4 linked regions of the Homo sapiens genome follow. The protein of the gene in region 1 interacts with the protein of each later gene in a biochemical or structural test. Each region holds a gene or a part of one and is shown in the gene's direction. Other genes may lie near its edges.

Evidence for each region.
Region 2: of the proteins of SRPK2 (region 1) and HNRNPC, one has a biochemical effect on the other in vitro, tested with the Homo sapiens proteins (2 studies listed by BioGRID and IntAct).
Region 3: of the proteins of SRPK2 (region 1) and PRPF38A, one has a biochemical effect on the other in vitro, tested with the Homo sapiens proteins (2 studies listed by BioGRID and IntAct).
Region 4: of the proteins of SRPK2 (region 1) and LUC7L, one has a biochemical effect on the other in vitro, tested with the Homo sapiens proteins (2 studies listed by BioGRID and IntAct).

What each region holds. Positions count from the first base shown.
Region 1 is NC_000007.14:105,114,689-105,120,375, reverse strand, and holds the end of SRPK2 (SRSF protein kinase 2), read left to right. Parts: intron 1-2,353; coding exon 2,354-2,538; 3' UTR 2,539-4,002; downstream 4,003-5,687. UniProt on the Homo sapiens protein: Serine/arginine-rich protein-specific kinase which specifically phosphorylates its substrates at serine residues located in regions rich in arginine/serine dipeptides, known as RS domains and is involved in the phosphorylation of SR splicing factors and the regulation of splicing.
Region 2 is NC_000014.9:21,223,804-21,232,442, reverse strand, and holds part of HNRNPC (heterogeneous nuclear ribonucleoproteins C1/C2), read left to right. Parts: intron 1-1,370; coding exon 1,371-1,446; coding exon of another isoform or gene 1,447-1,485; intron 1,486-2,076; coding exon 2,077-2,124; intron 2,125-8,639. UniProt on the Homo sapiens protein: Binds pre-mRNA and nucleates the assembly of 40S hnRNP particles. Interacts with poly-U tracts in the 3'-UTR or 5'-UTR of mRNA and modulates the stability and the level of translation of bound mRNA molecules. Single HNRNPC tetramers bind 230-240 nucleotides.
Region 3 is NC_000001.11:52,407,004-52,415,642, forward strand, and holds part of PRPF38A (pre-mRNA-splicing factor 38A), read left to right. Parts: intron 1-1,565; coding exon 1,566-1,687; intron 1,688-2,482; exon of another isoform or gene 2,483-2,500; intron 2,501-4,111; coding exon 4,112-4,197; intron 4,198-4,438; exon of another isoform or gene 4,439-4,519; intron 4,520-5,510; coding exon 5,511-5,621; intron 5,622-6,875; coding exon 6,876-6,988; intron 6,989-7,617; coding exon 7,618-7,644; intron 7,645-7,758; coding exon 7,759-7,856; intron 7,857-8,334; coding exon 8,335-8,383; intron 8,384-8,639. UniProt on the Homo sapiens protein: Involved in pre-mRNA splicing as a component of the spliceosome.
Region 4 is NC_000016.10:204,832-213,470, reverse strand, and holds part of LUC7L (putative RNA-binding protein Luc7-like 1), read left to right. Parts: intron 1-4,806; exon of another isoform or gene 4,807-4,870; intron 4,871-5,282; coding exon 5,283-5,393; intron 5,394-7,323; coding exon 7,324-7,467; intron 7,468-8,639. UniProt on the Homo sapiens protein: May bind to RNA via its Arg/Ser-rich domain.

The sequences.
Region 1 (5,687 bases):
CTCTTTTCATGGAAGATTGTACTTAAAAGATGCCTTGTTGATGGATCTTAGTTTAACACCTGGCGCCTCAGAAATAGGTTCCTTTACTATTCTCAGCACACAGTGCTTCTCTGTAGTTACCTATATTTGCAAACCTGGAGAGTATTTTTTCTGAGATAGAATAGATTCATGTCATAAAAGTTCGCTCCCTTTCCCAGAGAACTTGGTTTAGTCACATGTGAGCTTTCTTAGTTTGCTTTAACTGTTGCTGTGGTGAGATCAACAGTCTAAATCAATATAGTCATATTACAGAAAATGTGGAAATTGAAATAACCTACTAACAAAAGCTGATGTTTTGATTCAGTTGATTTCCATCTTAATGAGCATTTTAATAATCTTGTGATTATCTGTAGGACATAGTTTGACTGTTCTTTTACTGCCTAATGTTGTACCATGATCTTCTCCCATGTTGTTAAGTAATATTAAATACTATTAAGTGAATCTACCTTGGTTTTCTTTTAACCACCATTTTACTATTACTGGCTCTTCGTAATTTTGCGAGTACATATAATTTTGTGCCAGCATATATTAGGCATGAATTTGGGGTGGTGCAACCAGGGTTTATCTCCTTGGGCTGGATTCCTAGAGCCGGAATTTCAGGCTTAGAGGGATAAACCTGCAGTCTCTGTTCAGACTTTGTTTTTATGGAGACTGTGTTTCCTTCAACAGGAGATCCTTTCCCGCCTCTAATATTACAGGTTCATTTCTTCATCAACACAGACCTGATGTCTAGTCTGGATGCGATGCTTTACTCTAGCTCCAGTCCTCATATTGGAAACAGAAGCTTATTTTACATCTCAGCCCCTTTAGCAAGCAGCCCTCTTAAAAGATTCTTTATACGGAACCCTGTGCACAGCATGATTGCAACTTTGTAGACATACTAGTGTGTAAGAACACTCTTCACAATAGACACAAAAGAAGAGCAGTTGTGGGTAGGATTGTAGGCTACTTCCCCTTTTGTTCTTATACTTTTCTGTAATGCTCTTTCCTTTTCATTGTGTTTTTAAACGGGAGGGCTTTTCCAAGTTGACTCGAATAAATGGGTGAAACAGAACAAGCCTCCTGAGAACACCTTTGTGAGCAGAGCACTGATTATCTATTGATGCATCTCATGAAAAAAATGTACCTTGTTTAAATTAAAGCAGTTGAAAGGGGAGAGAAGTCAGTCCTTGCATGAAGTGTGCCCTGCAGGTGCTTGAATGCCTCTCTCCCCCCACCGAGACCTGGCTGCTCTGAGGTGTGGGCACAGGGGGGTGTTTCCTCTGCAGAAGCTGCTCAGGATGCACTGAGGGGCACCTAAGGAGGTCTGTGGGCAGGGGTGGGATGTCCTATGAAAACTTCAAACAGGCAGAGAAAACGAGTTATTCACAGTGAAATTATCTGGAGCTTTTGACAGTTTATTGCCTTTTTGAAAAGGTTATGGGGAGACAGGGTTTCGCTTGCTCTGTCCCAGGATGGAGTGCAGTGGCATGACCTTGACTCACTGCAGCCTTGACCTCCTGGACTCAAGCAATGCTCCTGCCTCAGCCTCCTGAGTAGCTGGGATGTACCACCGTGCCCAGCTACTTTTTTTCTTTTTAAGTAGAGACAGGGTCTGGTCTATGTTACCCAGGCTGGTCTGAAACTCATGGGCTCAAGGGATCCTCCTGCCTCAGCCTCCCAAACGGCTAGGATTGCAGGAGTGAGCCACTGCCCTCAGCCCTTTATTGCAGTTTTGACTTAAAAATAACCTTTTTTTTCTCTTATGAAATGACCATTACAGCTCGTAGGCCATTTACTAGCTTGTTAGTCATTCTGTTATGTCAACCAAAGCTGCCTGTAACCGACACTTTTCATACTGCAGCTAGCACAGTTTGTGAAGTATAACTTCAAGGTTTACAAATTAATGTCCTAGGATCTTAGATCTTACAACAAATGCGTAGACATGAATGGTGTTTGATTTGGGTTGGCCTCAAGTTTGCAAATTTTACGGAAGATCCCAGGTTGAAATGAGAGTGGCTTGCTTCAACCTTTGGAAAAGAAAACACTCTGGGCAAACTGAGCCCACTCCACTTACTTAAAGAAGCTTAGAACTAATGTGAATGAACTATTAATTAACCTCTATTTAGATCCACCAGGCTTACTTGAAATATGCCTTGGTCATATGTACATGTAATGATTATTGCTTAGTGGGGAAAAGCTGGTGTTCTTTGTTGTTGCTGTACAAGTGTTGAGCAGGTGGTTGTCCGCTTCACTGAAAAGAACCTGACTGGACCAACAATGGGGAATGCAGATTTGGAGCTTTCTTGACATTGGCCTGTTTTTTCCCCTGTAGGAGAACTGCGACACATCACCAAGCTGAAGCCCTGGAGCCTCTTTGATGTACTTGTGGAAAAGTATGGCTGGCCCCATGAAGATGCTGCACAGTTTACAGATTTCCTGATCCCGATGTTAGAAATGGTTCCAGAAAAACGAGCCTCAGCTGGCGAATGCCTTCGGCATCCTTGGTTGAATTCTTAGCAAATTCTACCAATATTGCATTCTGAGCTAGCAAATGTTCCCAGTACATTGGACCTAAACGGTGACTCTCATTCTTTAACAGGATTACAAGTGAGCTGGCTTCATCCTCAGACCTTTATTTTGCTTTGAGGTACTGTTGTTTGACATTTTGCTTTTTGTGCACTGTGATCCTGGGGAAGGGTAGTCTTTTGTCTTCAGCTAAGTAGTTTACTGACCATTTTCTTCTGGAAACAATAACATGTCTCTAAGCATTGTTTCTTGTGTTGTGTGACATTCAAATGTCATTTTTTTGAATGAAAAATACTTTCCCCTTTGTGTTTTGGCAGGTTTTGTAACTATTTATGAAGAAATATTTTAGCTGAGTACTATATAATTTACAATCTTAAGAAATTATCAAGTTGGAACCAAGAAATAGCAAGGAAATGTACAATTTTATCTTCTGGCAAAGGGACATCATTCCTGTATTATAGTGTATGTAAATGCACCCTGTAAATGTTACTTTCCATTAAATATGGGAGGGGGACTCAAATTTCAGAAAAGCTACCAAGTCTTGAGTGCTTTGTAGCCTATGTTGCATGTAGCGGACTTTAACTGCTCCAAGGAGTTGTGCAAACTTTTCATTCCATAACAGTCTTTTCACATTGGATTTTAAACAAAGTGGCTCTGGGTTATAAGATGTCATTCTCTATATGGCACTTTAAAGGAAGAAAAGATATGTTTCTCATTCTAAAATATGCATTATAATTTAGCAGTCCCATTTGTGATTTTGCATATTTTTAAAAGTACTTTTAAAGAAGAGCAATTTCCCTTTAAAAATGTGATGGCTCAGTACCATGTCATGTTGCCTCCTCTGGGCGCTGTAAGTTAAGCTCTACATAGATTAAATTGGAGAAACGTGTTAATTGTGTGGAATGAAAAAATACATATATTTTTGGAAAAGCATGATCATGCTTGTCTAGAACACAAGGTATGGTATATACAATTTGCAGTGCAGTGGGCAGAATACTTCTCACAGCTCAAAGATAACAGTGATCACATTCATTCCATAGGTAGCTTTACGTGTGGCTACAACAAATTTTACTAGCTTTTTCATTGTCTTTCCATGAAACGAAGTTGAGAAAATGATTTTCCCTTTGCAGGTTGCACACAGTTTTGTTTATGCATTTCCTTAAAATTAATTGTAGACTCCAGGATACAAACCATAGTAGGCAATACAATTTTAGAATGTAATATATAGAGGTATATTTAGCCTCTTTTAGAAGTCAGTGGATTGAATGTCTTTTTATTTTAAATTTTACATTCATTAAGGTGCCTCGTTTTTGACTTTGTCCATTAACATTTATCCATATGCCTTTGCAATAACTAGATTGTGAAAAGCTAACAAGTGTTGTAACAATAATCCATTGTTTGAGGTGCTTGCAGTTGTCTTAAAAATTAAAGTGTTTTGGTTTTTTTTTTTCCAGACATTGCCTTGGTCATTGCCCTATAAATGATAGAATCAATGAACATTTGCTATCAGAGTAGTGTCACTAAAACTAAATACCAGCATTCCTGTTGCAGCAGATGTAGTTGTAGAACATGCATTGAGGCGTATTATAAGGAAATCATTTATTGTTTTTTAAGGGCAGAAGGGATTTAGGAGAAAAGCTACAGTATAGATTGATTCTCTAGAATATCAATGATCCCTTTTCATCCATGGTTCATCAAAAACATACTAACTGCATTTGTTTGATCATTGCAAATTTAAAACAAAACAGCATTTGCTGTTAGGAAACAAGACACATAATCCTCTTAGGAATTACCATTATATCACATTACCACTGTGAGGTAGAATGGATCATTCATTAATTTCTTTATGAAATTTGCATGCTAAGTTTTTCTAATGAGGCTGTAGGTTTCCATGTAAATTCTGTGATAGATAGTGGCTGTAGACTGGTGATGCTATCCGTGATTTCTATGAGAAACATCCTTACAAGAACCATAGGGCATAATTTATATCTTCCCTAAGTGTAAAAGGATTTTTATCAGGGTGATAGTATACTTGAATGAAATTTGTCTAATGCAGTTTTTGCTTATGTTGGAAAATAAACTAGATTATGAATTTTTACAGGTGTGTCCCTTATGATAAAACAGCCTAACTAGTTTATAATACAGAAACGGTTGTTCTAGAAGGAATATACATTTGTATTAGGCATAATATGGCTTTATCAGATTCTTGGCGGCTTGTTGATAAAGAATGCACAAAAACTAAATGAGAACCACTGGTTATGCTAAACATTATAACTAGCTCTCTGACTTCAATTGAATGTCCTATCTATCTTTTCCTTTCTGTAGTCCATGTGAAATCTTCATGGAAAATGACAAGCAGTGGATCACATATGTGTTTATAGCAGATACAGGAGCTGGCTATCTAGAAGTTGGCAGACAGAACTGCCCAAAGGCAGAGAAAAGGTGGATATAAGATCTTCCGAGTCATAAACTTCTTAGGTGAAAACCGATTTACTAACTTGCTTCTTCCCATACCTGGACCATACATAACTAGTTACCACGATAAAGTAAGGAAACTTTCCATTGGAGTAGAGAACTTCTTCAGTTTCTATCCATAGTTCAGGTTATTTCCTAAATTCTCCTTTTTTCTCCCCCTTTTAAATAACTTGAATGAAATTTTGGTAGAAGACTGTATTTTAGAGTATATACTTCATCAAGGAATCAAAATGTATAAGATTCTGCAGTTCACACAAAAGCTTCTGTATGCATATTTCTGTAGTAGGCACATTTCAAGCCAGTGAAGAATTTAAAATGCTTAGAAGGACAAACCTTTTAAGAAGAATATTTTTATTTCACATGCTAGTTACCTTTATTCTGTTTGAAACTATCAGGATAGATGATGTAAAACCATTTCTTCTCAGACAAATGTTTCTTTACTAAATACCATAAATAGAATTTTGTTGGACAAATTGAGGATGGCAAACTTGGCCTATATGTTCTTCTAAAATTTGAAGCTGTGATTAGGATTGAGCCCTAAGTGAGCTGCGTTAATGTACCATCATTAGCTAATTTTCAAAAGGAAATAAATAGAGGTTCAAAGTGTAAAAACATGACTGAATGAGGTCACGCAGTCATTTTAGTGTTTACTTTCTCTGATGCAC
Region 2 (8,639 bases), on another chromosome or scaffold:
AGCCGTGATTGCACTCCAGCCTGGGCAATGGGGCAAGACTCTGTCTAAAAAAATACCCACACTCATCTAGTTAATGGTTTGAGGTGGAATTTGGAATTTATATTTTGGGGCATTTGTATATTAAAATGAAGCTCATTTTAATAAAAGCAGTATATATGAAAATGGAGTTACTGTTGACTCGAGTGCTGTAGCATGACTGGGAAGGTAAACTGAATTTTAGAGAGTTTTTGGCTTTTTGACATGGGCTTTTTAGAACAAGGAGAAGATAAATTCTTGTTTGGTAGGCAGTGGGTGGCAGGGTAGGTAGCTGGGCATACGTGTTACAAATTGTATTTGAAAACCAGGGTTGTTTCCCTTTGCTCTTTTATTTTTTTTGGTGTGTGTAAAGGTTGTTTAAGCAATTGATCAATTATTCAGAAAGCAGTCGTTAACCCAGGATATTTTACGTGTAGAACAGCTAATCCTTACTTATAAAGAAAATCTGAAGTTGCCTTTGAGGATGATTTGAGGTTGTCACACTTCACTATGTTAATTTGTGAATTGGCATATATTTTAATATATTTCATTCTAATATATTTGTAATAATTCGGAATGAGCTGAACCATTCTTGGAAAGGCAACCAGTGATAGTTTTCTCTTGTAATAGTAACTGAGTGAACAGTCAGTACCTTGAATGGGGAGAGTTGAGTTGAAGTGGTATCTGAGGGTGGAGAGTACCAAAGACAGACTTAATGTTAGTCTCAGGAACACTTGAATGGTAAAGAACAGACTACAAAGAAACGGAAGATGAAGCCTTAGCCTTGTAAAAATTTGTGAGCCTTTTTAATATTAAAAGGAGAGATGAAGCTGAGCTTGATAGCTCACACCTGTGATTCCAGCACTTTGGGAGGTCAAGGCAGATCACGTGACCCCAAGAGTTCGTCCCTACGAAAAATAGAAAAATTAACCAGGCGTGGTGGTCCCTGCTACTTGGGTGGGAGGATCACCTGAGCTTCGGAGGTCTAGGCTGTATTGAGCCATTATTGCATCACTGCACTCCAGCTTGTATGACAGTGAGACAGTGTCTTAAGGAAAGATGAGTTGTTTTGTTCCACATTTTCTAATTTATGTGTCTGTGTGATTTTCTAAACTTCGTAGTTTGTATTAGCTGGGCATGGTGGTGCCCGCCTGTAGTGACAGTTACTCTCGAGGCTGAGGCAGGAGAATCGCTTGAACCGGGAGGTAGAGGTTTCAGTGAGCCAAGGTGACACCACTGCACTCCAGCCTGAGCGAGAAAGCGAAACTATGTCTCAAAAATAAAAAAAATAAACTTTGTAGTTTGTTTTACCCGGATACAAAGTTGTCATTAACATTTTTACTTTTGTTTTTCAGATATTAACCTGGCTGCAGAGCCAAAAGTGAACCGAGGAAAAGCAGGTGTGAAACGATCTGCAGCGGAGATGTACGGGTCAGTAACAGAACACCCTTCTCCGTCCCCTCTACTCAGGTCCGGAACTTTATTATTTATAACTGCATTGTGTCCATCAGTGGGCATCTTCTCTTTCTGTTTTCTGGGTGTGGGGAGGTTTAAGTGTACTGTGTTTTATCTGTGTATAAATAAGGTTTTATTATTTTTGTGTTAATATGTCTCTTTTTTGCCCTAGAGAAAATTTCTAGAGAATTAAAAATCCCTGAGGTTTTTGCTATTGATATTAAAGAGTAGTTTGATATTTATAGCATAACCTGAAATACTTATACAGGATCGTTGAGCTTCTAAGACACTAGAGAGTAAGAGAGGGTAGAAGTGTGGTATAAGAATGCTTAGTTTACCATTCTGTTTTTCAGTGTTTAGTTTAGCTATGTCGTATGTGGAAATCTTAGCGAATTTTAACCTGAATTTCCAATTTGACCGCTACATTTCCAGTGGTCTAAGGTGATTGGAATTGAGTGATTTATTGTATGAATGATTGGGGATCATTCAGTGCTAATCTTGTTGATCTATTTGTTGTGGTTTATTTGGCATGGTTCTCCCCTCACCTGACATTGTGAATTAGTAGAAACATTTCCAAATTAACCCTTTTCGGTATTTATTTTTCAGCTCCTCTTTTGACTTGGACTATGACTTTCAACGGGACTATTATGATAGGTATGTTAAAATGTTTTGTATTTCTGCTAAACAGCTATTTAGTGAGAACCATTTCGTTCTTCTGGTTTGTGGTGATGAACATCAAAGATGTTTTCAAACATACTCCCCTAACTCCAAAACAAAAAAACACCTTTTTCTAAATCATTAAGTAGATTATTAGGTAGGGTGATACTGATTTTAATGCATTATTTCATAATCCCTGGCTAACGTGGTGAAACCCGTTTCTACTAAAAATACAAAAAAATTCGCTGAGTGTGGTGACTAGGGACTGGGTTATGGGTGGCTTTGGGTAACAGATTTAGAACTGTTGATAGCAAATGCTTAACAGGAAATAGGATGATGTGCTTAAGAGTGTTACCACATTGACATTCTGATAACATCAGTCTCAGTTAACATGAAGGAAATGTTAAGACTTATTTGGCTTGTCGCGTTCAAACTCATGCAGTATATGTAAGTATATGGAGCAAACTATTGTATGCAATAGACTTTAAACATGCAATATATAAAGCATATTACTTTATATACTATTTGTCTTATAATGCCAGTATTCCAGTCATTAGTATTTTAATGTTATTACTGTATATAACAATTCAGTCTGATTTTGGAATAAAAATTACTGATTGGGGAATGCTTAACATTTGAACTGAGTTAATCAGTCATGCATGGGAGTTGTAAAGGAATCAAGTCAGCCGTTAAATACCATAAAGTATACACTGAAAGTGTCAGACATGAAAGTATAGACTTTCTGTTTGAGAAATAACCTCACAGAATATGGTACGTAGTCATTAGAAGGCCAGAAGAGTAAGGCCCGAAAAGGAATTCAAATCCAGATTGTAAAGGGCCTTGAATGCCATAATAAAATGGTGTGGTTGAGCATCATTAATGCATCATCAAAATGTTTTTTTCATTTGACATTAGCGGTTTCCTCAGATTTTTTTTTTTTTTTTTTTGAGACAGTCTCGCTCTGTCGCCCATCCTGGAGTGCAGTGGCGCAATCTTGGCTCACTGCAAGCTGCGCCTCCTGGCACAGCCTCCTGAGTAGCTGGGACTACAGGCGCCCGCCACCACACCCGGCTAATTTTTTGTATTTTTAGTAGAGACGGGGCTTCATCGTGTTAGCCAGGATGATCTCGATCTCCTGACCTCATGATCCGTCCGTCTTGGCCTCCCAAAGTGCTGGGATTACAGGCGTGAGCCACCACGCCTGGCCTGATTTTTTTTTTTTTTTTTTTTAAATACGGAATTTTCCTCTCGTCACCAGGCTGGAGTGAAGTGGCGTGATTTTGGCTCACTGCAACATACGCCTCTTTGGTTGAAGCAATTCTCCTGCCTCAGCCTCCCAAGTAGCTGGGGTTACAGGCATGCACCACCACTCCCGGCTAATTTTTGTATTTTTAGTAGAGGCTGGGTTTCACCATGTTGGCCAGGCTGGTCTCGAACTCCTGAACTGAGGTGATCTACTCGCCTTGACCTCCCAAAGTGCTGGGATTACAGGTGTGAGCCACTGTGTCCAGCCCTTTCCTCAGATTTTTACAGTTATGTGTGAACATTTTGAAAACTAAGGAGTTCTGTAATTCTTCATTTTTATTTTTGTTGAAATTTTTGAAATTCTTAAAAAATAAAAATCAGCTGGGCACGGTGGCTCACACCTGTAATCTCAGCACTTTGTGAGGCCAAGGCAGGTGGATCATGAGGTCAGGAGTTCAAGACCAGCCTGGGCAATATGGTGGAACCCCGTCTCTACTAAAAAAATACAAAAATTAGCTGGGCGTGGTGGCACGCGCCTGTAGTCCCAGCTACTCAGGAGGATGATGTAGGAGAATTGCTTGATCCCGGGAGGTGGAGGTTTCAGTGAGTTGAGATCGCGCCACTGCACTCCAGCCTGGGTGACAGAGTGAGACTCCTTCTCAAAAAATAAAACAAAATAAAAATCAATGGAGAACTTCCAGTTGAAAATAAATCAGGACATTACTAGTGAACTCAGCCCATTTATTCCTGAAATTGCAATTTTTTGAATTTTTGCAATCAGACCTTGGTAATGACCTAATGCAGTAGGATATAAATAACTCCGACAAGCTTAGCATTCCAGTAATGGAACATTAGGCATAGATGGGTTAATTATTGGTCAGGTGTCTTGAAGGCACTGAAACCCAGTGAGTTTGTCTGAAGCATCTGCCCTTTAACCCTTTCTGCACATGGTAATTGCTTGACCACATTTAAAATATACTCATGCCAGCTTCTCCTATAGGGATTCTTACACAACTGGTCTTATGCAGACTTTCTTAAGTACTAGTATATTTTTCAGTGCTTTCTATGTGTTCTTTTGTCCAGTCAGAGTTGAGAATCATTAATAAAAGATTAAGGACGTGGTTGTGTTTCTGTGTATTATTATCCTATTTCTTTGTCATGGCTCAATTCAGACCAGTTTAATAAACTCACACTTTTGTTGGTATAATTTCAGGGATGTCATGGACTCTTAGTTGATGTTTTTTATGAGTGTATCAAGTTTTAGCAGTATACAGTGACAGTCTTCTTGAAAATAGTTCTCATTAAAAAGTCTTTTCTTGGCAAGGCACATTGTGAATGGGGAAATTTGAAAATTTGAGCAGGGAATTTGGAAAACATTAGTTGAGACAATGAGATATATACTGCAGAGAAATCTAAAGAAATCACGTTTGCAGAAATATCTTCACAGAAATTGGTGGCCTCTTCAGATTTTCAATAGACAACAATATATTAGGTTTGAGCAAAAGTAATTCCGTTTTTGACATTTCTTTGAACGGTAAAAAGCAAAACCGCAATTATTTTTGCACCAGCCGATACTAGTAGTTACTGTCGGATATATTGCTGCATGTTATTGTCAGTGAAAAGTAATGTCTTCTATTGTTCTAACGTCAGCCAGTAGATAATGATTACTGATAACTAGTGGAGCAACTAGGTAATAGCTGGCAAAGAGCTGACTTTTAGAGTACTGAGATCTTTGTTGGGAAAATGAATTTTAGGAGGTGTCCACATGATGGGAACTTACTCAAGTTGGGTTGGAGAATTGAGGAATTGAGTGTGTGTCTTACATGATAGATGTTAATGAAGGTGAAAGGAGGAGGAGTGTTTGTTTAGTGGGGAGAGGGGCAGATACAGGAGTTTTTTGCTGGTTTGGAAAATGTTAGGTCAATTTGGACCTGGGAAATAGGTTGGGTATGACCTGGTGGAATAACAACTTAGAAAAATGGTATTAATATCTTCTAAGAAGTCATTCTGAAGATTCATTATCATAAGGTTTAGATTTTTATTTTAAATGGTAACAGCGATACTTCATTGACTATGTTAAATTGTTTAATCAAAGAAGATGGGAAATTGGCTCTGAGTGAAAGCTCTGGGTCTTCATATGTAAATCGGAGTAAAAATCACTGTCCCCCCCCCCCCTTTTTTTTTTTTTTTTTGAGATGGAGTCTTTTCTGGCACTCAGGCTGGAGTGCAGTGGGTTGGTCTTGGCTTACTGCAACCTCTGCCTCCTGGGTTCAGGCGACTCTCCTGCTTCAGTCTCCCAGGTAGCTGGGATTACAGGTGTGCACCACCACACACAACTAATTTTTGTATTTTCAGTAGAGACAGTGTTTGTCCACGTTGGCCAGGCCGGTTTTGACCTCTTGACCTCAGGTGGTCCACCCGCCTGGGCTCAAGGGATCTCCCTGCCTTGGCCACGCAAAGTGCTGAGATGACATGTGTGAACCACTACGCCTGGCCCTCTTTTTAATATTCATTTGAAGGCGCTGGTTTTGTTTTGCGAAAGGTGTTGTAATAAAAGTGAATTTTTATCACAATGTTGGGAATGCACAAGTATTCAAAGCTGTAGTTGTTGAATTAAGCGAGATTGGGAAGTACTCTAAAAATAGATCTTTAAGTCCTTAGGTAGGCTGGCATATACATGAAATTGATGTTCGTCAACAGCTACCCTGGTACTATTCTTTCTTTCTTTTTTTTTTTTTTTTTTCTTTTGGAAACGAGTCTCGTGCTGTCTCCCGGGCTGGAGTGCAGTGGTGCAGATCTCGGTTCACTGCAACCTCCGCCTCCCAGGTTCTCGAGATTCTCCTGCCTCAGCCTCCTGAGTAGCTAGGATTACAGGTGCACACCACCACACCCAGCTGATTTTTTGTATTTTTAGTAGACATGGGGTTTCAGTATGTTGGCCAGACTGGTCTCAAACTCCTCACCTGACTTCATGATCCATCCACCTTGGCCTCCCAAAGTGCTGGGATTACAGGTATGAGCCACTGCACCTGGCCCAACCTGGCACTATTCTTATAATTCTTTAAAAAATTCTCATAAAAGTCTTGATCTATATGTGTTTTCTGATTTGTGCCACAAATACTGCAGTGTTTTCATACTAAAACTATATCTAGATATAAACTAGATATATTTTCTTCAGATTGTAATAAATTGGAACCCCACTTTCCCTTATAATTGATCACCCATGAAATTGTTCTCAAATTAGATAATGGTGATATTGCAGAACTAATAAAAACCACGGAGTGGCACCCTTTTAAATGGTGAATTTTATGGTATGTGAATGACGTTTTGATTGAAAATGGATGCGACATTACAATTGAAAAAGGATACATCACTGTCTTATGGACAGTCATTCTTTTTTGTCATATCTCGTGGACCCTACCTACATCAGGATACTTGCCAGTTAGAGACATAGATGAAACCCGTCTGGTGCTACCAGCCTCAAAAGGTAACTCTTACGCCTGAGGATGGACACCTTTTAGAATTAAAAGAACTCTCAGTCATTGTGGGACATCTTGCTAGCCTTCATAGAGACTGATTTACTGTCAGCTCTTTTCTTGAGTCGTCTCATCTCTCTCTGTTTTTTTTTTTCCTTTTTTTGAGACAGAGTCTTGCTCTATTGCCCAGGCTGGAGTGCAGTGGCTCGATCTCGGCTCACTGCAACCTCCACCTCCCAGGTTCAAGTAATTCTTGTGCATCATCGGCCTCCCAATTAGCTGGGGTTACAGGTGCCTGCCACCATGCGTGGCTAATTTTTTTTTTTTTGTATTGTTAGTAGAGACGGGGTTTCACCATGTTGGCCAGACTGGTCTCAAACTCCTGACCTCAGGTGATCTGCCCACCTCGCCCTCCCAAAGTGCTGGGATTACAGATGTGAGCCATCGTTCCTGGCCTCTTTAATTCTTATTTGGAGAACTTTGGGCAACACGAAATAGAAACTGCCAATAAATGGCAGGTTTGATAACAGGCTTTATTATGACAGCGGAGACTTGGTGAGCAAGAAACCTGGTTCAAAAAGACTGGTTTAGTTCAATGGTCTTTCTGAGGACTTTTTAAACTTAGCACATTTTGTATGTGGTGCATGACTAGTAATACAGTATATAAGTAACGAGTATGAAATTCTTAGAGGTTTTCAGAGTGCTGTTATTACTCCATGGCTAAATATATTAATATGTCAGTGCATTAGAAATAGACAAATCTTCAAGAACTCACAGGTCAAAGATGACACATGTAACAAAGATTGAGTTGTGAGGGGCCTTGATGTGTTTGAGGAGCAGCCAGCTGTAAAGTAAATTGTAAAGAATGTTAGTTGTAAAGGGCTTTGTATTACATGTTCTGGGATTGTGTCCTATAGATGGTATTTTAGAAACAGGCCTGTGGCTAGAGGAAAAAAGATGTGTTAAATGGTAAACATTGTAAATGTTGGAATGGAGAGGAGGTTGGGAGAATTTCTGAAGTAGATTGGTCTTGATGTGATTGGTTGGACTAAAGGTATGAAAGTAGGTGCTTGTAGGAAAATAATAGTCAAAAGCTGAGATTTTGTCTTCGTGACTAGATGATAGATTATGCCATTAATGGTTACATGAAGGGGGGTTTCACAGAGTTTGTGCTGTCAGAATTTCAAGGAGACAAGCAATTTTGCTGCTGGTTTTATTCTACCTGACTTTTCTAGGAATGTATCTTGGTAGAGAGAGAAAATTAGTTGAAATGAAACCATTGAAATTCAAGACAGAACTGTCAAACCATCATTTCTTCAACTATTAATAGTTAATATCCCTAATTTTGTTCTGGGCACACAAAGCCTGAGGCTTTGGATTAACAATATGGGTTGAAGGAGAACCTTCACCTTACTGAGTTTAGATTAGCAGACACTTTGACCTCCTTTTCTATTTTTCAGATGTTTTTGAGTAACACTGTACCTGAGAGATGGGTTTGTTTATATATATGTATGAAGGGAGAGAGTGCCAAAATACTTAGGTTATTTGAAGTTTGAAAACTGGGGACATTCTGCATTGAAAGGCATGTGTTTCACAGAGCAGGAGACTTCTAGGCTACTTTGAAAAGCTAACAGATGACTCTCAGAGGTGTCATTTTAGGTGGAGAGGGTACTCTGGGCTTGGAAGTTTTGGATTTGCTCACAGCTCCACTGTTAATTATATCTTTCTTTTGGGAACCTGTGTATCATACATATAGGTGCCAGAAGGATTTTAGATGGTGACATAGATTAG
Region 3 (8,639 bases), on another chromosome or scaffold:
AAAGGGAAGAGGAACAACTCTTTTTTTTGTTTGAGACAGAGTCTCGCTCTGTTGCCCAGGCTGGAGTGCAGTGGCGCAGTCTCGGCTCACTGCAAGCTCGGCCTCCTGGGTTCATGCCATTCTCCTGCCTCAGCCTCCCAAGTAGCTGGGACTACAGGCGCCCACCACTACACCCGGCTAATTTTTTGTATTTTTACTAGAGACGGCATTTCACCGCGTTAGCCAGGATGGTCCCGATCTCCTGACCCGGTGACCCACCTGCCTCGCCTCCCAAAGTGCTGGGATTAGAGGCGTGAGCCACCGCCCCTGGCTGGAACGACTCTAATAAAGCATTAACAGCTAGAAAATACCTAACTTTTGTTAGGCACTTACTGTGTGCTCTGTGCTATACTTAGCACTTTCAATGCATTTCTTGTTTATATACCAAGCCATAAATTAGGTAGCATTATCTCCGTTTTACAAGGATTGAGAAAACACATGATTTGACCAGTAGTGTCACAGACTTAGTAAATTACGGAGTCAGAATTTGAACCCAGATGACTTACTTTTTTCCAAAACCAGCAGTCATGTTTATGTGTACTTGTTCTTGTATTGTTATTAAATATATCTTCTTTCTGTTTTAAAATTCAATATATGGCCAGGTGTGGTGGCTCACACCTGTAATCCCAGCACTTTGGGAGGCCAAGGCAGGTGGATTGCTTGAGGTCAGGAGTTCAAGACCAGCCTGGCCAACATGGGGAAACCCCGTCTCTACTAAAAATACAAAAATATGCCAGGCATGGTTGCTAACACCTGTAATCCCAGCACTTTGGGAGGCCAAGGCAGGCAGATCACCTGAGGTCAGGAGTTTGAGACTAGCCTGGCCAACATGGCAAAACCGGTCCCTACTAAAAATACAAAAATTAGGCTGGGTGTGTTGGCACATGCCTATAATCCCAGCTACTTGGGAGGCTGAGGCAGGAGAATCGCTTGAACCCAGGAGGTGGAGGCTGCAGTGAATTGAGATCGTGCCACTGCACTCCAGCCTGGGCAACAGAGCAAGATTCTGTCTCAAGAAATAAATAAATACATAAATAAAAATACAAAAATTAGCTGGGCATGGTGGCGGGCGCCTGTAATCCTCGCTACATGGAGGCTGAGGCATGAGAATTGCTTGATCCCAGGAGGCGGAGGTTGCAGTGAGCCAAGATCGTGCCACTGCACTGCAGCCTGGGCAACAGAGCAAGACTCTGCCTTAAAAAATAAAATAAAATTCAGTATTTCTTTTGATTCTTAGAGTAATCCTGTGAGGTAAATAGGTTTTATTCTAGTTTTACTGATGATATATTTGAAAGTTGATCAATATGTATGATGTTCCCACAGCCATAAATGGTAGCATGGGAACTTGAACTCAGGTCTCCATATTTTAGCTGTCTTTCTTCTGCTGCATTCTACCTCCACAATTGCAGCTTTCTTACCTGCCAAAGAGAAGAACATGTTTATCCACTACTGTCATGAGAACAGCTAGTTGTAAAACTCAGGAACTTCTAGGATGGCCTGTTGTTTCACTGTCATCTGTCTCTCAGGTATGTCCGCATGCTGGGGGCACTTTACATGAGGCTGACAGGCACTGCAATTGATTGCTACAAGTACTTGGAACCTTTGTACAATGACTATCGAAAAATCAAGAGCCAGAACCGAAATGGGGGTAAGTATGGTGCTAAGTCTCCTGATTGTCATTTTTAAGCCAGTTTTTATTTTACCAGTACTTCTACCTTTGCATTGTCATAGACAGTGTGAATGCTCCTTTTCATCTACATTGTTACTGTCTCTATGCAGGTTTTCCCTTGTCCCTCATGGGAGTTTTCAGTCTGACTACTAGCTTCGTGTTGGCCTTACCCAGCCTGCCTCTGTCTGTCTCCCTTTCCAAGTGCATCTTATGTTAATCCCTGCCTTGCATCATATGCCCCCTTTACATGTGCTCCATCCCAAAAGATCTAGCTGCAGAATGGCTTCTCCATAAAAACCTTCCCCAGCCCTCTCAGACAAAATTAGTTTTCCATATTTTACATCTTCACAGTTCTTTCTACTGGCCTCTCCTCTAACACTGTAATTCACACTGCAGCATATAAGACTACTCATTTTTATACAGGAATCCCACTGAAAAATAAGTATATCCAAGAGAGGCAGCTCCATACCTTCTACAAGGAGATTACTTAATGTGCTAAGGAGGGATTCCAGGTAATGCAGTCAAAACCTTTTCTCACTTGGTGTCATAACAGAAGATAGGAACATTTACCTTTCCCCCTACATGTATCATTAAACAGTAGAAGGTTAAGAATTTGGGGCCAAGCACGGTGTCTCACACCTCTAATCCCAGCACTTTAGGAGGCCAACATGGGCAGATCACTTGAGGTCAGGAGTTTGAGACCAGCCTCGTCAGTATGGTGAAACCCTATATCTACTAAAACTACAGTAATTAGCAGGGTGTGGAGGTGCACACCTGTAATCCCAGCTACTCAGGAGGCTGAGGCAGGAGAATCCCTTGAACCAGGAGGCGGAGATTGTAGTGAGCCGAGATCACGCCGCTGTATTCCAGCCTGGGCGACAGAGCAAGACTCCATCTTAAAAAAATAGAATTTGGTATTATACTTTAAACTTATTGATTCATTCATTGAATAAATACATATTAAGTGCCATTGACATGTCACATACTGTGCTATGTGGTGTAAATACCATGGTGAACAAGATGGACATGGTCATGGCCATGATGGAGTTATTTATTTATTATTTTATTACGTAAAACTAAGAATTTCTGAACCTATTGACATTTTGGGTCATATAACTTTTGTGTGAGGATTGGCTTGTGCATCATAGAATGAGTAGCAGTATCTCTAGCCTCTACCCACTAGATGGAAGTAACACCTCCTTCTAAGTAGGGGGATGGGCATGTGCAAAATTGCCCATGGTTGAGAACCCCAGAAGTAAGGTAATGTTTACCATGGAAGTTCTCAAAAGCTATATATGTATATGTATGTATGTATATATATGTATTTGTATATGTGTATATACACACACATATATATACATTTTATAATTATATTTACATACAAATATATAAATATACATAATCATATATAATTTATATATAACATAATTTATATATAACATAATTTATATATAATATAAATTGCCTGTAATCCCAGCTACCCAGGAGGCTGAGGCAGCAGAATTGCTTGAACCCGGGAGGCGGAGGTTGCAGTGAGCCAAGATTGCACCACTGCACTCCAGCCTGGGCAAAAGTGAGACTCCGTCTCAAAAAAAAATTTTTTTTCTAACTCTAGCCAAAAACAATATTTCCTTATTAAAAACACCTCAGCTCTGCCATATACTAGTAGTATAATCTTACGCAAATTACTTAAATTTAGTTTTCTCCTATGTAAAGTGAGGTTAATGATACTTTTATATATATATAGATGTATATATATATATACACACACACACACATATATATAGACATATAATTTTTTTTTTTTTGAGATGGAGTCTCACTCTGTTGCCCAGGCTGGAGTGCAGTGGTGTGGTCTCAGGTCACTGCAACCTCTGCCTCCCAGGTTCAAATAATTCTCCTGCCTCAGCCTCTTGAGTAGCTGGGATTACATGTGCCCACCACCATGCCCAGCTAATTTTTGTGTTTTTAGTAGAGATGGGGTTTCGCCATGTTGGCCAGGCCTGTCTTGAACTCCTAACCTCAAGTGATCTGCCTGCCTTGGCCTCCCAAAGTGCTGGGATTACAGGCGTGAGCCACCACTCCTAGCCAGTTCTCAAAAGCTATCACTCCATGTGCCATATAAGATACATGTTCTAAATTCAGAAACATTGAAGGTTCAGATGAGAAATTATATTTAAGTTATATGATCTCTTCAAGATCATCCCTACATAATTCAGGACTGTTTGTGCTTGTTTTTGTGTTTGTCTCCTGCTAATTGGGACATCTTCATTCATCCCTTAATCTCTTCTAAAGAGGCCTAGCACATAGATGTCCTGATATGAAGTCTTAACACTTCTTTTACTTTTTGGCATCTAAATCTTTTATTTCCAGGTTGTTTGCTCTAATGACTTTTTCTTGCAGAGTTTGAATTGATGCATGTTGATGAGTTTATTGATGAACTATTGCACAGTGAGAGAGTCTGTGATATCATTCTGCCCCGACTACAGGTAAGAAATAAAAGTCTGTTACCAGAGTCACCCTTCTCTTCCTAGACGGGCAGACAGACAAACACATACACACAGCTTAAACACTGAAGCCTGTGGATCTTATGGGTCCTCTTAATGAATAGTCTTCCTGTCTGGGAGTCCCAAGATAGTGGATTGGGAGTGAGAGGAAAATAGATAAAATATTTGAAGGGTAGGGCTTTAAAAGTGAATGGTTTAAAACAAGGAAACTTTGTTTTTCTCCATCCTTTTGTAGTTCAGGTGCATGTGTGAGTTGTGCCTCCCTCAAACCTTGTTACAAAGTCAGCACATTACCTGTCTATCATGAAAAAAGAAATTTATTCAGGATGTTACATCAAGGGTATTGTAGCTAGAGTAGGTAGGGAGTTTTTAACTTCATGAACGTTTTTTTTAAACTAATCTTCATGTAAAAAGCCAGGACATAAAACAGATAAAAATAGGGCCAGGAGTGGGAGACTGAGCCATTAATTCCTTAAACTTGCCTTCACCATCCTGCTTCCCTTTCCTAGTGATAAACGATTATCCATGAGGCATCTTTTCAGGAAATGAGTGTGATACAGCTCTCCTGTTCCATGTTGGCACTGTAGGGCATGTAGTGGAAAGAATGAGATTATAAATTTGAAAACCTACTTTGAGGGCCCAATTCTTATAGCAAGACAATGTCTTGCTGTGTTGCCCAGGCTGTTCTTAAACTCCTGGGCTCAAGGGATCTTCCTACCTCAGTCTCCCAAGGAGCTGGGACCACGGGTACATGCCACTACATTTAGCCATTTGGCATTTTTGAAATCAGCTTTGCCTCTCTGATCCTTAGCCACTCAAATAAACATTGCTAAGCCATATCCCAGATTAAAATGGAACCAGTTCAAAATGCATGAATATCAACAGCTCCCGAGATCCTGGGTCTACTGGAGATTTGGTACTACTCTAGGGCTAGGCCTCTTCTAGTGGAACTACCAGCCATGAACTTATTAGCCCTTGGATTTTCTCTGTGTGTGAAGCCCTTACTTTTGGTTCTAGGCTGTACCTATACTGATTGATATTCCCATGACTTTAGAGTATAAGGTACAGGGAATAGAGTCAATAGAAAATGAAGATGTTCTCTTCAGGTTTGTATTTATGTTTATAGGAGAACTTTATAGATTTCAGGTCTATTAAACTTGTTAGGAAAATCTTGAACTGTCTTTGAAATGAAATTGCCTCAGCTGTTGCTCCTTGGAACCCTGAAGCCCAGTGTTGAGGTTTCAAGAAATAGGGGAAATGGCAACAACCCCTAACTCTCATCATTTTCTCTGTAGAAACGCTATGTATTAGAGGAAGCTGAGCAACTGGAGCCTCGAGTTAGTGCTCTGGAAGAGGACATGGATGATGTGGAGTCCAGTGAAGAGGAAGAAGAGGAGGATGAGAAGGTCTGGCACCTGAGACTTTTATGGTTGTAGGGGAGGGAGTAATAGAAAATGGGAATGGTTTTTTGTTTTTAGACTTTAATTTTTAACTCTATTGGCCGGGCGTGGTCGCTCAAGCCTGTAATCATAGCACTTTGGGAGGCCAAGGCGAGTGGATGACCAGCGGTCAGGAGTTCAAGACCAGCCTGGCCAACGTGGTGGTGAAACCTCGTCTCTACTAAAAATACAAAAATTAGCCAGCGTTGTGGTGGGTGCCTGTAATCCTAGCTACCCAGGAGGCTGAGGCAGCAGAATTGCTTGAACCCGGGAGGCAGAGGTTGCAGTGAGCCAAGATCGCAACACTGCACTCCAGCTTGGGCAAAAGTGAGACTCCGTCTCAAAAAAAATTTTTTTTCTAACTCTAGCCAAAAACAATATTTCCTTATTAAAAGCACCTCAGCTCTGCCATATACTAGTAGTATAATCTTACGCAAATTACTTAAATTTAGTTTTCTCCTATGTAAAGTGAGGTTAATGATACTTTTTTCCCCAAGACTGTTAAAAGTATTAAATAAGATTATAAACTTAAAGCCCTTAGCAGAGTATTGGCACATTATAATTGCCTAATAAATGGTGGCAGCTATTAAATACTTGGAAAGAAAGAACACTTTCATAATTGCACCTATCCTAAGGAATAAACCTTGTTTAGGAGGGGGAAAATGTCAACCGCATAGTCATGTTCTTTCAGTACTAGTTACGGTGCTGAAAAGTTGAAAACAACCAAGCTGCCCAGTTGTTCCAGGAAGCAAACTTTTTTTTTTTTTGAGATAGGGTCTTGCTCTGTTGCCCAGGCTGAGGTGCAGTGGCTCACTGCATTCTCGGCCTCCCAGGCTCAAGCAGTCTTCCCATCTCAGCCTCCCAAGTAGCTGGAACTACAGGCACGTGCCAGCATACCTGGCTAATTTGTGTATTTTTTTTGTAGAGATGGGATTTCACCATGTTGCCCAGGCTGCAGATAAACTAAACATACACACATACACACACACAGGTCTGTTTCTGTTCCCTCTCCTATGAGTCATTTTGGCTGTCTTATATAGCTCATAATAAGTTTTGTTAGTTAATAGGGTAAGTGCTTCCCTCTTTGTAGTCAGGTTACTGTGCTTTAAAGTCACATGGAGATGGACTTTGGGACAAGATGGGGCGTGAAGTATAATTAGTGTTCCTAGATGGCTCTTTATAAGCCTGTGCCTTTCAATGACCCAATCATCTTGTTTCCAGTTGGAAAGAGTGCCATCACCTGATCACCGCCGGAGAAGCTACCGAGACTTGGACAAGCCCCGTCGCTCTCCCACACTGCGCTACAGGAGGAGTAGGAGCCGGTCTCCCAGAAGGTAAAGCCTAGTCATTGGCCTTTTCCCAGAAGATTTTGAGCACTGTAGCCTAGAAGTTTGGATTTTAGAGAAGGAAAAATGCACGTCTATGGAGAATGTTTGCCCAATATATTAGTTATCTGTTGCTGCAAAACAACCACCTATAAAACCTCATTGGCAGACAACAATAACCATTTGTTCCTTTCACAAGTCTGCAGTCAATGATTTAAGCAGAGCTTGGATAGGCAGTTTTTAAAGTACCTGTTCTGTTGTCGGCTGTCTACTGGCTGGTATGGAATTGCCTTAGCTTGGATGACGGGGGAAATTTCTCTTCTCTGTGTCATCCTCTAGCAGGCTAAGTTGGGCATATTCTCATGGTAGTGGCAGAACTCAAGAGCAAACAAACCCGGTCATGCAAATGTTTTTCCAGTATCTGCTTTTATCACATTTGCAAATATCTCATTAGCCAAAGCGAGTCATGTCACCAGTCCTAAAGTTAGAATGGGAGGGTGCTAGAGTTACGTGACAAAAGACATGGATACAGAGGTGGGTGATACAGAGAAGCGTGAAGGATAAGATTGGGGCCGTTTTTGCAATCTACCACATCCAGTGCGCCAACCTAGGCTTTCTTCTTCCTCTCCTCTTTATAGGCGGAGTCGATCTCCCAAAAGGAGAAGGTAGGCCTTCAGTCATTTGTGATGAAGGATAGGGCTTTGGGGAGGGGGTGGTGGTATTGGTGTTATATGTATATTGCTAACCAGATCTGGTAGTCTGACCAGTCTTTTCTACAGCCCCTCCCCTCGCCGAGAAAGGCATCGGAGCAAGAGTCCAAGACGTCACCGCAGCAGGTCCCGAGATCGGCGGCACAGATCCCGTTCCAAGTCCCCAGGTAAAGCTTGTGGGCCTTTTGCCACAGGTTGTCTTAACAAAGAAATGTAAAAGGAGTAGTTAGCCTCCTGCAGTACAGGAGTGCCTGACTGTACTGCCTAACAGAAAAGCAAATGGACATAGAATTTGAAAATTAAGGTTCACAGCTTGACTGTCACTTATAAGCTTTGCTGATAAGGTTTGCTTTAGTTTTTTCATCTAAAATTGGAGGAATAAGATCTAACATAATAGTGAAAACCCAATATGATGTTTGTGAAATTAGTCATAAAGCCCTTGAATGTATATGTATTTGAACTGGTTTCATTACTACTTTCTTTGCTCCCTCTTCCTCCACTAATTCAGAGTTGCTTCCACTAAGAGGTGTCCCCTGCATAGGCCAAAAGAATATTAAGCCAATGGCAGGTATTAGGGGAGGTGAGAATGACAGTTTAATAAGAGTAGAAGGGTAGGATCTTATGCAATGGCCTTTTCTTCCCCAGGTCATCACCGTAGTCACAGACACAGGAGCCACTCAAAGTCTCCCGAAAGGTAATGAATTGACCTCTATTTTAACTTTACAGAAATAGTCCAAATTACAACTAACTGGACCTGAAATTTTCTTGTTTTGTTGGGGGATGTTAGGAATTCTCCTGCATTACAAGACAAAATTGGTCTATTGCTTTGAGAATTACTGGGGTTAGATAACTTTTTCTTTTTTCTCTTTTTTGAGAACTGAGTTTCGTGCTTGTCTCCCAAGCTGGAGTGCAGTGGCGTGAACCTGGCTCACTGCAGCCTCTGCCTCCCG
Region 4 (8,639 bases), on another chromosome or scaffold:
CTCAGATGTTGCCTCTACACTCCAGCCTGGGTGACAAGATGACGCTGTGTCTCCCTGTCCCCTTCCAAAAAAAAAATTGTGGGCCTTTATTTTCTGCCTGGACCATCACCTTAAGCTTGATGGATGGAACTCCTGGCACATTTCTACCCAGGATCCTCCCAGTACTCAGTTGTTTTACCTGGGAGAAGATACCCTCCCTGTCCTCATCATTGGCTGCTTCCAGCCTGAGTCAGCCTCAGCCTGACCACAAAAGACCCAGGCCTTGATATGTTTTATCTGGAAGTTGCCTAGGAAAGGATGTGTGCTATATTTGTTATAAGGCAGTCTATAAATAAACTAAGTTTCTCAACTTGTAAACTGTCAAACAGCAATATTAATCATATTAAGCTCTGAAAAAGTTACAGATGGCCAGGTGTGCGCTCACGCCTGTAATCCCAGTACTTTGGTGGGAGGCAGAGGCCGGAAGATTGCTTGAGCCCAGGAATTCGAGACCAGCCTGGGCAAAGTCTCTACAAAATCAGAAATGTTAGCTGGGTGTAGTGACGTGTTCCTATAGTCCTACCTGCTTTGGAGGCTGAGGTGGAAGGATGGTTTGAACCTGAGAGGTCAACGCTAAAGTGAGCCGTGATCGTGCCACTGTATTCTAGCCTGGGTGACAGAGCAAGATCCTCTCGGGAAAAAAAAAAAAGGTATATTTCTTTAGTGTTCACATGTTGAAAATGTAATGAATGTGTCTTTGTAATTCACCAAAAGTGTAATTAACCTTTACTCCCATGTTGTCTGGCCATGTGATGTTTTGAAAAGTTTTCAAAACAACATATATGGGCTCATTTCAAAGCTGTTTTTAATATACCACATGAGACCAGTTCTGATTGTATGTAGTTTTCCTGTCTTACAGTTGTCCAGTATAAGAGTGACATTTTTCTAGGTCAAATGTCTTGAGTTAGAGTCCCTGTGTGACCCTGGGCAAGTTATTTCACCTTCTTTTTTTCATCTATAAACTGGGCTGACGATGGCTGCCTCAGATTTGTGAGGATGAAGTGCAGGTCTTTGGAGCCAGACCACAAGGGTCCTTGGATCCTGACTCCATTGCTTACTTAGTGGTTTGGTAGCTGTGCTTCACTTTCATCATCCATGCAATGGAGACCCGACGAGCTCCTCTGCGGCTGTGTTTTTTGAGATGGAGTTTCGCTCTTGTTGCCCAGGTTGGAGTGCAATGGCACGATCTCAGCTCACTGCAACCTCCGCCTCCCGAGTTCAAGTGATTCTCCTGCCTCAGCCTCCTGAGTAGTTGGGATTACAGGCATGCACCACCACGCCTGGGTAATTTTGTATTTTTAGTAGAGATGGGGTTTCTCCTTGTTGGTCAGGCTGATCTCAAACTCCTGACCTCAGGTGATCCACCCACCTCAGCCTCCCAAAGTGCTAGGATTACAGGCGTGAGCCACCGCGCCCGGCCCCTCTGCGGCTCTTTGGAGGTGTTTAGCGCACGTGCCTAGTGCAGCACAAGGGCACCTGTCTGCTGTGACAGTTCTGACTGACATCATGGGCTTTTCTCAGGCTCAGTGACCACCGGCCTGTGTCAGTGCTGCTGGGCCGGGAGAGCTGGTAACAGCACCAGGCAGTCCGTGTGTGGAGGGACAGCCTCCTCAGTGGAGATGACGTGTGCTGATATTGTCCAGTTTTGCCATACTGTTAGGACACAAGTCTTTGTGCTGGTGCTGTCTGTGCTCAGGGGCTTTTAGGGTTTATGTTTCATAACGCTACTCAGAGATAGAGAGAGATTGGGTGACTTTCTAGTAAGTGGTAGGTTGTGATTAGGACTTAATTTTTGGAATCGAATGTCTTTTTTTTATCATTTAGATCTGCTCTTTTAAGAAACAGGCTAAAGTTGAGAAACACTTTGAAGGGAGAGGGCAGTAGAACAGAAAGCCACCTTTTAAAGAACTTGGCAGCTCTTGGTTGGCTTGTTCTCTGTTGTGAAGTTTACCATTTATAGTTGTTGTTTTCTGTTTGAGCCAGTCTTGCTCTGTCGCCCAGGCTGGAGTGCAGTGGCGTGATCTTGGCTCACTGCAACCTCCGCCTCCCAGGTTCAAGCGATTCTCCTGCCTCAGCCTCCCTTGTAGCTGGGATTCACCTCGTAAGGCGAATTAACCTTAGCATATGATAGTTCTTTTAGTGTTTCCCACCACCCTTTTCAGAGTAAGCAATTAGACGTCTAGAGTTTCTTTTCCTCTATCTCTTTGGGTAAATAGCAACCAGTGGTGCCCGCCACCACGCCTGGCTAATTTTTTGTATTTTTAGTAGAGATGGGGTTTCACCATACTGGCCAGGCTGGTCTCAGACTCCCAAAGTGTTGGGATTACAGGCGTGAGCCACCGTGCTGGGCCTACCATTTAGTGTTCTTTTTTTTTTTTTGAGACGGAGTGTTGCCCTGTCACCCAGGCTGGAGTGCAGTGGCACACAGTCTCTGCTCACTGCAAGCTCTACCTCCCGGGTTCATGCCATTGTCCTGCCTCAGCCTCCCGGGTACCTGGGACTATAGGCGCCCGCCACCACGCCCGGCTAATTTTTTGTATTTTTAGTAGAGACGGGGTTTCACTGTGTTAGCCAGGGTGGTCTCGATCTCCTGACCCCGTGATCCGCCCACCTCAGCCTCCCAAAGTGCTGGGATTACAGGCGTGAGCCACCACGCCCGGCCACCATTTAGTTTTTAGGTTATCAGACATCTGAGTCCATAGCCAATTTGGATTCTGCTTAAGGTGCAGGTAATTGCTTTGATGGGTTTAGGTATTGGGAGAGTTGTCAGCTGCCTATTTCCCATTTGACCCCTCGAGTGAATCCCTGAATCTGTCTCAGGTTGGTGATTGATTGCTCAGCTTGAGCAGACAGTACAGGGCCACTGTGTGGGTGAACCTGGAGCATCTCAGACTGGTCTGTTAGGGGCTGTTGTCTGAGGTAAGCACAGAAGAGAAGGCACAGTGACCCTTGTCAGCTCCTTAATACTTGGATCCTGATGAGCTCCAGCCAGCTCTTCACCTTTCCAGAAAGTCCAGTGTACAGGTGCATAGAAGCAGTCAAATGCCGGATCATTTGTTTTCCTGATTCTTTGATTTGAACATACTGAAATGTTGACTAGAGAATATCTGGGTGACCAACAAGAAGCAGTTTATGTATTTTTTTGAGAGGGAGTCTCGCTCTTGTTGCCCAGGCTGGAGTGCAATGGCGCGATCTCAGTTCACTGCAACCTCTGCTTCCCAGGTTCAAGCAGTTCTCCTGCCTCAGCCTCCGAAGTAGCTGGGATTACAGGCATGCACCACCACTCGTGGCTAATTTTGTATTTTTAGTAGAGATGGGGTTTCTCCATGTTGGTCAAGCTGGTCTCGAACTCCTGACCTCAAGTGATCCACCCGCCTTGGCCTCCCAAAGTGCTGGGATTACAGGCGTGAGCTACCACGCCTGGCCAAGAGGCAGTTTTTGAATTCCAAAATTATGGAGTGATATCTGGGAGTCAGCCTTCATCAGTGATGCTGCTTGTGCTTTCTCCAGCTTCTTGGGAGACTGGGCACCAGGAGACTTGGAGGTTCTTCCCTATCTTACCTACTCCCAAGTATGCATGTTTTTGAAAAAAATATTTAAGATTTCTAGAGAAGATCACAATCTTCTCCAGTGTCTGTGTAATCCATTGTGGAGCAGTTTATTACAGCTGACCTACTGTCTCCTGTCTGTTTTAGGAGCGGTGACTTAGGTTATCACCCCTTAGTGTTTTCCTGTCATCTGCCTTCTCATCTCCACCTAAAATTTAGTTTTTGGTAAAAGATCATGCTATCTAACCTTGTCATCATTGCAAAACAAACTTATTTATGTTTATCATGATGCTGACATTAGCAAGCTGACTCATGGTTTAATGTTAGTGTTTCTTACTACTGGTCACTGGCTGACAGTCGGAAAAGTGATGCCCTATTTTTTTTTTTTTTTTTTGAGATGGAATCTTGCTCTGTTGCCCAGGCTGGAGTGCAGTGGTGCCATCTCGGCTCACTGCAACCTCTTCCTCCCAGGTTCAAGCGATTCTTCTGCCTCAGTCTCCTGAGTAGCTGGAACTACAGGTGCATGCTACCACGCCCAGCTAATTTTTATGTTTTTAGTAGAGATGGGGCTTCACTGTATTGGGAAGGCTGGTCTTGAACCTCTGACCTCATGGATCCTCCCGCCTCGGCCTCCCAAAGTGCAGGGATTACAGGTGTGAGCCACTGGGCCCTGCCTTTTTTTGTTTTTGTTTTTGTTTTTGATACGGAGTCTTGCTCTGTTGCCTAGGCTGGAGTGTGGTGGTCTGGTCTCAGTTCACTACAACTTCTGCCTCCGAGGCTCAAGCGATTCTCCTGCCTCAGCCACCTGAGTAGCTGGGATTACAGGCACCCGCTATCATGCCCAGCTAATTTTTGTATTTTTATTAGAGACCATGTTGGCTAGACTGGTCTTGAACTCCTGACCTCATGATCCGCCCACCTTGGCCTCACAAAGTGCTGGGATTACAGGTGTGAGCCACTGCGTCCGGTCCTGTCTCTGTTTTTATCTGAAATTATGTTAGCCTTTGCCTAGTTATGGTGAATTAACCTTAGCATATGATAGTTCTCTTAATGTTTCCCACCACCCTTTTCAGAGTAAGCAATTTGACGTCTACAGCTTCTTTTCCTTTATCTCTTTGGGTAAATAGCAACCAATTTTTCCTGCTACTTTAGATAGTAGGCAATAACAAAATGTATTCATAGCTCTCAGTAATATTTGTTCTATTGTTTTGTTTTTGAGGTGAAAGGGGGGACCCTACCCTCAGAACATGAGGGAATAATATTTACGTGGCTCACAAAGACCAGTGAGTACATCATATGCATCTCTCACAACTCCCCAGAAGAGGGCCTCCAGCACGAGTCTAGGCTCAGCCTTTTCTGTCCCTCCGAGAACTCTATGAATTGCTGCCAAGTGTTTTAATTTTCCTCAGAATTTCTTTGTAATGTTATTGAGGGTTGGAGGTCCTTTTACAAATTTTGGAAATAAGTAAATCAAATGAGAAGACCATGCTTCCAAACAATCATTCTGTTTAACAGATCCCCTTGATTTAATGCAATTATGAATGCGTTAGTGGTAGTGTAGTTTAAGATCTTTCCCTTGAATGTACAGGCTTTAAAGAAACGAACCTAGGAGTGTATTTCCTATCAAGCAAATGGGTTCTAAGACTTTACGCTTTACACATCATTGATTATAGCGCTGTGCTTTTCCCGTGCTAGGCAATGGATCACTTGGAGTCCTTTATTGCTGAATGTGATCGGAGAACTGAGCTCGCCAAGAAGCGGCTGGCAGAAACACAGGAGGAAATCAGTGCGGAAGTTTCTGCAAAGGTATGCTTGGGTGGCTTCGGTGTCTGGTGTGTTCTTAAAAATACTGGCTTGTCAATAGCTTTTTTTTTTGAGATGGAGTCTCCCTCTGTCACCCAGGCTGGAGTGCAGTGGCATGATCTCAGCTCAGTGCAAGCTCCGCCTCCCGGGTTCATGCCATTCTCCTGCCTCAGCCTCCCGAGTAGCTGGGACTGCAGACGCCCGCCACCATGCCCGGCTAATTTTTTGTATTTTTAGTAGAGACGGGGTTTCACCGTGTTAGCCGGTATGGTCTTGATCTCCTGACCTCGTGATCTGCCTGCCTCAGCCTCCCAAAGTGCTGGGATTACAGGCGTGAGCCACCGCGCCCGGCGTTGTCAATAGCTATTAACTGACCCTCAGCACTGATTGTGTGGACAGTACTCTCTGCCTTACTCCAGTTAAGGATAGAGGGCTGTGATCAAGCATTCATGTGTCATGGAATTCTCATCCCTCAGGAGCTGCTACCTCTGTCTTTTTATTCTCTCCATTTTCGTCCTCTGTACATGGTTTATCATTATTTTTTAATTTTAATATATTCTTCGCTGAGTTTGGTGGCTTATGCTTGTAGTCCCAGCACTTTGGGACACCAAGGTGGGGGCAGACTGCTTGAGCCCAGGAGTTTTAGACCTGAGCAACATGAAGAAACCCCATCTCTACAAAAAATACATATATTAGCCAGGCTTGGTGGTGCACATGTGTATCCCAGTTACTCAGGAGGCTGAGGTGGGAGGATCACTTGAGCTTGGGGAGATTGAGGCTTCAATGAGCTGTGATCATGCTACTTTGCTTCAGCCTGGATAACAGAGTGAGACCCTGCCTCAAAAGAAAAAAAAATTATTGTCGGTTTTTTTTTTTTTTTAAGAGACAGAGTCTTGTTCTGTCGCCCAGGCTGGAGGGCAGTGGCGTGATCTCGACTCACTGCAAGCTCCGCCTCCTGGGTTTACGCCATTCTCCTGCCTCAGCCTCCTGAGTAGCTGGGACTACAGGTGCCCACCACCACGCCCAGCTAATTTTTTGTATTTTTAGTAGAGACGGGGTTTCACTGTGTTAGCCAGGATGGTCTCGATCTCTTGACCTCGTGATCTGCCCGCCTCGTTTTCCCAAAGTACTGGGATTACAGGCATGAGCCACTGCACCCAGCCATCTTTTTTTTTTTTTTTTTTTTTTTTAATAAAGATGGAGTCTGTTGCCCAAGCTGGTCTGGAACTCTTGGGCTTAAGCAATCCTCCCGCCTTGTCCTCCCGAAGTGCTGGGATTACAGGTGTGAGCCAGCATGCCCAGCCTCTGCATGTTGTTTTAAACTTTAATATCTCCACATAAAACTGGAAAGAATTGGTAAGGAAATGGTCAAACTGTGGTACATCCATATCATAGAATGAAAAGGAGGTAGATTTATATGTAATTAGACTGAGTGCCATTTACATCACTCTTCTGTTTTTCTCTTCAGTGGAACTAAGCCTCTCCTTGTTTTTTCTTTTCAGTGTTGTAAAAGCATTTCTTAGGATTTATGCAATTGCTAATTTGACCAACGGTGCTATTTTGTTTCAGAAGGTAAATCCTAGTAATTAGGTATTTTGGTTACAGCTTAAATCTGTACATTTAAACCTAGGCATTTTATTACCATACCCAGAAGAAAAAGTCATAAAGAGAGACAGCCTAGACAATGACCAATCTGTGATGATCCTTGGAAGCATGTCGGAAGTGACAAAGGTGCCACTGGTTTCATTGGAACATAGGACTCGTTTATGGTTACAGTCTCAATGCTGGCAGTAAGGATGCCTTCATTGTTAAGTGTGGATCTTTAGCTCTTCCACTTATTTTCAGACTGGAAATGGAGCAGGAGAAACCCTTGTTGCCTTTGCATTCACTTTCATTTTCAGATGTCTGCTTACCTCATTCTTTCTCCTCACAGGCAGAAAAAGTACATGAGTTAAATGAAGAAATAGGAAAACTCCTTGCTAAAGCCGAACAGCTAGGGGCTGAAGGTAATGTGGATGAATCCCAGAAGATTCTTATGGAAGTGGAAAAAGTTCGTGCGAAGAAAAAAGAAGCTGAGGTTGGTGAGATAAGTGCCTTAGGGCAAGAGAAATCTTAGTAATTTGGCAGCGTTGACCGTTGGAATTAATTGAGCCCATGCTTGCTCCCATTTTTTAAAAAATTTATACATTTTGGGCCCAGCACAGTGGCTCACGCCTGTCATCCCAGCACTTTGGAAGGCCGAGGCGGGCGGATCACGAGGTCAGGAGATAAGACCATCCTGGCTAACACAGCGAATCCCCGTCTCTACTAAAAATACAAAAAAATTAGCCGGGCATGGCGCCAGGCACCTGTAGTCCCAGCTGCTCCGGAGGCTGAGGAAGGAGAATGGCGTGAACCCGGGAGGCGGAGCTTGCAGTGAGCTGAGATTGCGCCACTGCACTCCAGCCTGGGCGACAGAGCGAGACTCTGTCTCAAAAAAATTTATAAACGCTGTTTTTGCAAGCAGTTTTAGCTTCATAGCTAAATTGAGAGGAAAGTACAGAGATTCTCCATGTACCCTCTCCTCAGACAGCCTCCTCCATTCCTAGCATCTGCCCACAGTCAGTGGGTCTACGTTGACTTGTCATTATCACCCAAAGTCTGCAGAAAATGTTAGGTATGTCATGAATACATAAAATATATGAGGATACTAGTCTTTTATTTACTGCCATAAAATATACACAAGTCTATTATGAAAAGGTAACATTTGTCAAAACTTAAGCATATGGCCAGCTATGGTGGCTCTTGGCTTTAGTCTCAGCTGTTCGGGAGGCTGAGATGAGAGGATCCCTTAATCCTAGGACTTTTGGAGTCCAGCCTGGATAACATAGCAAGACCCTGTCTCTAAAAAAGAAGAGGCTACATGCAAACGCTTACAGACCATACATGACAGCATTCGCCGTAGAGAGATGTTAACAAACGTAGTGCAGAGGTGCAGTATTAAATCAGGGCTGCCTAAGAATAACTGTAATAGGTACTGTACTACTGTAATAATTCATGCCACTTCCTGTTGCCATTGTGTGGAGCTCAAGGGTCGTGAGTATCCCCTTGAAACACCACGTGACACTCATCATCTCCGAAGGAGCAGTTCACCTCTCCAGTACATTCCTACTGCAGTAAAAAGTGAACTCACAGGGTTCCTAGGCGTTTTTCATCGTGTTTAGTGCAATACCATAAACTTTGAGTAATGCCATAGGATCCATATGCCAC